Linked DNA regions of Homo sapiens. The protein of the gene in region 1 purifies or fractionates together with the protein of each later gene. This does not show direct contact. Each region holds a gene or a part of one and is shown on either strand. Other genes may lie near its edges.

What was found.
Region 2: the proteins of GPA33 (region 1) and DNAJC11 purify together in Homo sapiens (affinity purification with mass spectrometry; one large-scale study listed by BioGRID and IntAct). This does not show direct contact.

The regions. Positions count from the first base shown.
Region 1 is NC_000001.11:167,055,803-167,059,634, reverse strand, and holds part of GPA33 (cell surface A33 antigen precursor), read left to right. Parts: intron 1-1,207; exon of another isoform or gene 1,208-1,328; intron 1,329-3,785; coding exon 3,786-3,832. UniProt on the Homo sapiens protein: May play a role in cell-cell recognition and signaling.
Region 2 is NC_000001.11:6,653,201-6,657,032, reverse strand, and holds part of DNAJC11 (dnaJ homolog subfamily C member 11), read left to right. Parts: intron 1-2,993; coding exon 2,994-3,122; intron 3,123-3,832.

The DNA.
Region 1 (3,832 bases):
AAGTGGGGGAGGGGGTAGTTCTGGGGCCTGGAGCACTTAAGGGGAGGCGGTTGTGAAGGGTGGGGACCAGTCCAAGGAGGATCGTGAGGGCCCTTTGTGAGAGAGAGGTGGCAGCAGGGGCTTGTCGACAAGCTACAGGATTGGGTAGGGGTTGGGGGGATGCGGAAACGTTAGGTCTTGTCAACGTGACATTAGCGTCTTGGTGAGACAGGAGGTTCTCTTGAGGGGAATCTCTCCACAGCTGGAGCAGAGGAAGGTGGGAAGCGTATGACCGTCCTGTGCATTCCCCTTTCTGACCACAAGGTGTCGCCACTGCAGCGGAAACATTAGTTTTCTCCGGATATCAGAAATTACTAGTCCCTTTCCGAAGGAAAAGGGGCTTGGGAGCCCCAACTCGGAATCAAAGAAGGTCCTGTGGCACAAGACCTGCACTGGTTCATCCCAGCAGCTTCCAGTGCACACGGTTTGCATCAGGGAACTGGGGGAGGATAGCGCTGACTCATTGGACTAGGAAACCCCATGTTCCCCACCCTAAACAAGGCCTAGAGCTCAAAGCTGGACTCTGACAACTAAAAAAGTCCTGACTGTCTGCAGTGTGCTGCCTACACTAAATCCAGAGTCCGAGCTTCACACTCTTAAGTGGTGGGGATCTGTTATGAGCTCTAGACCTCCTAAGTATGCCCAGGGCCATAGAGCATTTCCTAAAGTGTGTTCCTTCAAGATGCCTCTTAAAAATAACAAATCCGATTCATTTAGCAAATGAGAGCATGAATACCACACCCCGCTGTCAGAAGTTCCCAGTGCTCAACAGCATTGTAGGAGCTCTGAAAGTGCTGCCCTTAGAAAGATTACTTAATCCTAACTCAGTGATTCCTAAACTTGCTTTTTTAGGGACTCCTTCTCCATGCCGCATGTTAATATCACATGTAAACAATGTTCCAGAAAACATACTGAGGCGTGGAATTCTAGGATAGAAGGGGACACATTTTATGAAGAATGAGCATCCAGAGAGTAGTGTCCTGGGGGTCAAGGGAAGAATTTGAAGAAAGTACAAGTGAAAAGACTGAAAGAAAATAGCACCAAATCAAAGTGTTATTTATAGGTGATGGAATTATGAATGATTTTTATTTGTTCTCTCTTCTTTAAAGAGGCATTCCTTGGCCCTTTGGATGAGATTAAAACCCCTTGCCATAAGCTCAGATAGTACCTCCATCTTGAACTGTAACCATCATTGTTTCATGTCTGTCTTCTTTGGGAGACTGGAAACACCAAGAGGACAGGGACCCTCCTCATCTCGTTTATAGCTGTGATCAGCAGCTAAAGATTTTCTGTATTGAATTGAATTGAAATAATAGTTTTATATCATTTATAAATTATTATAAGGAGCATACATTGCTTTTATCATACAAAATTTTATTTTTATACATATTTTTTTCGAGATGGAATCTCGCTTTGTTACTCAGGCTGGAGTGCAGTGGTGCGATCTCAGCTCACTGTAACCTCCACCACCCAGGTTCAAGCGATTCTTTTGCCTCAGCCTCCCAAGTACCTGGGACTAGAGGCGCACACCACCATGCCCGGCTAATTTTTATATTTGTAGTAGAGACGGGGTTTCACTGTGTTAGTCAGGCTGGTCTCGAACTCCTGACCTCAAGTGATCTGCCCGCCTTGGCCTCCCAAGGTGCTGGGATTACAGGCGTGAGCCAATGTACCCGGCCACAAATTTTTAAAAGAAAATTATCAATGGCTCCAGGGAGTTCTAGACCTGAAACAGGATTTTTGTTCCTGTTTTATAATTTCTTAATTTTGTGACCTTGAGCAGTTCACTTAACTTCTTTAAGCCTCCAGTTAACTCCATGAATTGGAGATTGAAATATTGAGGATTGCTGGAAGGATGAAAGGACATCACATTTGAGGATGTGTACTGAGCAGCACATCCGGAGAAGGAAAATCTTGAGATGCAATCTTGCAGGAAAGTGACGGTGGGGCGGAGAGAGGACAACTCCCCTGGTTTTGCCCCTAGCACCAAGTGGCAAGAGGCAAAGCTGGTATGATTGACAGGGCCAGATCTGTGACCTGAAGCTTGGACTTGTTACTGAGGATTACGTCTAGTGGTTGCTGGGCAGCCCCTGAAATGTCTGAACAGAGCAGTGACAGGATCGTATTTACAATTTAGAGCGTCTCTTAGGGATGGCGTGTAACCACCTGGTGGCAGCAGGGATCAGGCAAGGCTGGCTCTGCAGCAAAATTAGAGGAGGTAGGTCTCCAGCTCCTCTCAAAATAGCAGTTATAACAAAGCATCTTGGATGGCAGGACATATACATATGCCCAAGCACAAAGCTCTTGCTTTCAAGATGAAGAAATTCATAGGATGATAGATTGAGGGGAAAGGTCTTCCATGAGATATTCTGGTCCGTTCTCTTCGATTCAGGAGGATCAGGTGTTTTCACTCCTGCTTTCCGAAGGAAGCCTACAGCTCAAAGAAGTTAAATGGCTTGCTCAAGTGGCGGCAGATGTAGAGGAAGAGTCTAGACAGTCTGCCTCCGTCCCACCCCAACAGCACACACATTCACCACCCCCCATACCACACACACTACACATGCAACACACACCACACATCACACACCACACACATTACACCCACCACACACCACACATCACACACTGCACACCACACATACTACACACGCCACACACACCACACACAGTACACACCACACACACCACATGCAGCACACACACTACACACACCACACACACCACACACCACACACACACCACACACATTACACACTCACCACACACACTACAAACGCTGCCACATACACACCACACCACACGCACCACACTACACATGCCACACACACCACACACACGCCATACACACACCACACACACCACATACATCACACACTACACACACACTACACACACCACACACCCACCACACACCAGACACATCACACACTCACCGTACCACACACACTACACACACCACACACATCACACACTCACCACACACACTACACACACCACATACACACATACCACACATATGCCACACACACCACATACCATACACACACTACTCTCACAGAGCACAGCACACACACGCTGCACATCACTGACACACCACACACCACACACACTGACACACCACACACACTGACACACCACACACACCACATAACACACAGACACACACACACACATACACCCCACACACCTCTCTCATGGCAGAAATCCAGAGATCAGAGTTTTTGATTTCCAAAGGCTTCTTTCATATGAGTCTAAGCTAAGAGATTTGGTTTCTGAAGATCATAAAAGTAATAATATCTTCTGATTAGAAAGCATTTTCATGTAATACATAATGTGCATTATGTTTCCTGAGCACTTACTACATATCAGGCATTCTGTTGTGGGCTTATATTTATTATTAGTACCTCATTTTATGCTTGCAAGTACCCTGTGAGGCAGGTACTATTATTTCTGATTTTAGATGAGGAAATGGAGGTTGAATGAAGCTGAGTTACTTGCTAAAGACAAATTAATAAGTGGCAGAGCCAGGTGTCAAACCCAGGGTGCCTGACTGAATTCTGAGCACTTCACATTGTGGGCCCTGCCTGGTTTAAGCGTCCTGCAGCCCTGGAGGTGGACATGGGGCTCCGGCCTGAAGAAGCTCAGTGGCAGAGGTTGTGCTTCCCAAGGAGTCCAGACCTCCCATTCCTGGCTGTCTCCACTCCACTGTAGTGCCTCTCTTCACCCTGACTCTTCTTCCCCTGCAGCCTCAGGTCAGCCTGTCTCCCTGAAGAATATCTCCACAGACACATCG
Region 2 (3,832 bases), about 160 Mb from region 1:
CCACAGTGTGTCACACTATTTTTTGAAGAGTGTATTTCCTGTGTCTTTTTCTTTTATAACATTGCCTACCATCTTTATGAAAGTTGCATTTATATTTAGCAAGTTATATTTTACTTTGAGATAGGGTCTCATACTATCACCCAGGCTAGAGTGCAGTGATACAGTCACAGCTCACTGCAGCCTTGGCCTCCTGGGCTCAAGGAATCCTCCCACCTCCCAGTGGAATCCTCCCAGTCTCCTAGGTGACTGGGACCACAGGCGGATACCACCACTCCCAGCTAAACTTTTTTTTTTTTTTTTTGGTTTTAGTTTTTTTTGTGGAGACAGAGTCTCAACATGTTGCCTAGGCTGGTCTCGAACTCCTGGGCTCAAGCAATCCCTCCACCTCAGCCTCCCAAAGTACTGGGATTGCAGGAGTGAGCCACAGCACTCAGCTGAAATTTTTGACACATTTAATTGATTCATCTCTGTATATCATATTTTTAATTTAGAAAATATTCTCTCAATTCTAAATTTCTTCATATTAGAACATAAAAATATCTTGGCCCAAGTATTTTGACAGGTATTGTCTTTTTAACTTTATTCACAACAGTTTTCTTTGACACATTTTTCTAAATCATCTTTATTTATGATCTTTTGAATGTTTTATCAAATTTAGATGCTATAAAACTGTAGACCTTTTCAATTCCATTTCATTCTTGAACAGAATATAAATTTACCTAATTAAACATGACAGCTCCACCAAGATTCCTACACAAAATAAAGATACTCCAAAATGCCGTTATGGAATTTCAAAATTGTATCTCATTATATCTCATAAACTCTTATTTATTTTGTATGGTTTTTTTCCCCCTAAAAAGATCAGCTTCAGATTATTTTTCATTACAAGCTTTATTTTCAGTGATTGTAATTTTTTTTTTTTTTTTTTTTTTAGACGGAGTCTTGTTCTGTTGCCCAGGCTGGAGTGCAGTGGCACAATCTTGGCTCACTGCAACCTCTGCCTCACAAGTTGAAGCAATTCTCCTGCCTCAGCCTCCTGAGGAGCTGGGATTATAGGTGCGCACCACCACGCCCGGCTAATTTTTGTATTTTTAGTAGAGATGGGGTTTCACCATGTTGGTCATGTTGGTCTCAAACTCCTGACTTCGTGAGCCGCCTGCCTCGGCCTCCCAAAGTGCTGGGATTACAGGCATGAGCCACCACACCCGGCCTGTTCTTGTTTTTGAGACAGAGTCTTGCTCTGTCACCCATGCTGGAGTGCAGTGGCGCAATCTTGGCTCACTGAAACCTCCACCTTTCAGGTTCAAGCAGTTCTCCTGCCTCAGCCTCTAGAGTAGCTGGGACGTGTACCTGGCTAATTTTTGTATTTTTAGTAGCAACAGGGTTTCTACCACGTTGGCCAGGCTGGTCTCGAACTCCTGACCTCAGGTGATCCCACTCCCTCAGCCTCCCAAAGTGTTGGGATTACGGGTATTAGCCACCACACCTGGCCACAGATTGTTCATATACTGCCATGCAGTTTTGTTGATTATTCAGAATCATCATCATGACAGAGATGTGTTCATGCTGTTACTCTGTGAATATAAAAAATTTGTAAATTTTGGCAACTACAACTTCATTTTCCATGGGTAGAATACCACAGCTTGTTTTGACACAATTATGCATTATGCGTATCACTACAACTAATTCTAAGGATGTTTCTAGTCCATGGGTTTCTTGATTTAATAAGAAAATTTTTTACCATAACACTATACTGCCTCCAAGTTGGTATTTGAATATCACCGCAAAAACAAACACGTTTACCTTTAATGTGGAACTTTTTGATTGAGTTTATAGTAGCATTCATAATGTCAGGTGTTTCACCCTCAACAGAAATCAAGTAATTATTAGGGTTAATGCATTTTCAGATTGAAGCATCTGATAGAAAGCTAGCACCAGCTGGGCGCGGTGGCTCACACCTGTAATCTCAGCACTTTGGGAGGCCGAGGCGAGTGGATCATGAGGTCAAGAGATCGAGACCATCCTGGTCAACATGGTGAAACCCTGTCTCTACTAAAAATACAAAAATTAACTGGGCATGGTGGCGTGCGCCTGTAGTCCCAGCTACTCGGGAGACTAAGGCAGGAGAATCGCTTGAACCCAGGAGGCGGAGGTTGCAGTGAGCCAAGATCGTGCCACTGCACTGCACTGGACTAATGGCTAATGTTGCCTGGTGACAGAGCGAGACTCCATCTCAAAAAAAAAAAAAAAAGAAAAGCTAGCAAAAAAACATTGTTTCAATGGGCTGCAAAAAGTTTAGTTAAAAAAATGTGTGTGGCCATGGTTTTATATACTGGATTAAGATAATGTCCGTTTTTAAAGTTGTGACTATCAAAGAATAATAAACATTGATTTTCTGAGTAACAAGCATTTTTATCAGCAAAATTTTAGCTTAGAATTCCTTGAGCAAATACAGTGTTCTGTTTCTCAAACTTAATTCTCATTAATTTGAGAAGGTGGATTAATTTTAAAGTCTCCCATTTGTTCATAATTTGTGCTGCTTTATCTTTGAAGGTATTTTTATTTAAAGAGTTTTAGGGTAGTTTTGTGGTATAAGGTTGTTTACCAAAAAATGTTTAATCCATGTAGCTCATTTCTAGGTGGTTTTGTGCATTCTTGGGTCCTGTTTGGTCTCTGAAAATCAAACTGTCTAGCTCTTACTCCTTTGACTAACACTTTTGTCTTTGGCGTGTCATTGCTCTGCAGACATGCGGACCGGCTCTCCTGGTCAAATGATGTTTTCTAGCTCTGGACGTCTGTGGTGCTCTGCAGTTTGGTTCGGACTGTGACATTCATGCTTTGTGGGCTTCCTGGTGGAGTGTCCTACCTAAACCCAGTGAACCCTGAAGTCAAATGACTTGTTCAATTAAAGCGAGCTGGCTGTTGAAGTGTAGCATTGTCTTTCATTCCACAAATACCACCCGTTCTGCTGACGGCTTGTTTTTCTGCCCCAGGGAACGATCAGCGTTGGAGTAGATGCCACCGACCTTTTTGATCGCTATGATGAGGAGTATGAAGATGTGTCCGGCAGTAGCTTTCCGCAGATTGAAATTAATAAAATGCACATATCCCAGTCCATTGAGGTAAAGCACACAACCACCTCTCCGAGTACAGCAAGGGCTCGAGTTAATGAGGCACAGCACACCAAGCAGCTGGAATGAGAGTCTGCCCAGGGTTTTTCTCATCTTTATTTATGAAAGGATGCAATTAGCCACTTAAAAAAGAAAGCGCTTCATTCCCAGCCGTGTGTTACCGCTGTGCTGGCATGTGAGCCAGCAGGAGTGTGGGCTGGGGCACTTGGCTCCCAAGGTCTTGGGCCTTTCCAGCAGAGGGTGTTAATGGTCTGGGAGAAGTAGAGGCCCAAGGTCATGGGGTTCTGGGAGAGAAAGCAGACCTCCATGGATCATTCTAACAACCAGTTTTAGTTTTAAGGCAAATTCTGCTAGGTGCCGCAAGGCTATAGCAGCTCTCATCCTGAGCCCTGGGCACGCGAAAATGTCACCATTCTGCCCACTATTTGGATGTGACGAGGTCAGGTCATTCTCCTGAGCGTTTATAGTAGGTCTTTGTCTCCTCAGCTCATTAATTTATTCTCCATTGCATCAGCCAACAACGTGGAGTCCTAACTTGGGGAAATTTGCCCCCTCTTGGAGCTCCCTGAGTCAGTTGATACAGAATACAGCCATGGGAAGGTCTTCAGTCCCCCTGGAACCCTGATGGCAAACCACAGAGGGAAGGCACACAGTGAAGTCACTGTGCTATCTGATACCATTGGGACATGCAGCCCCATGTT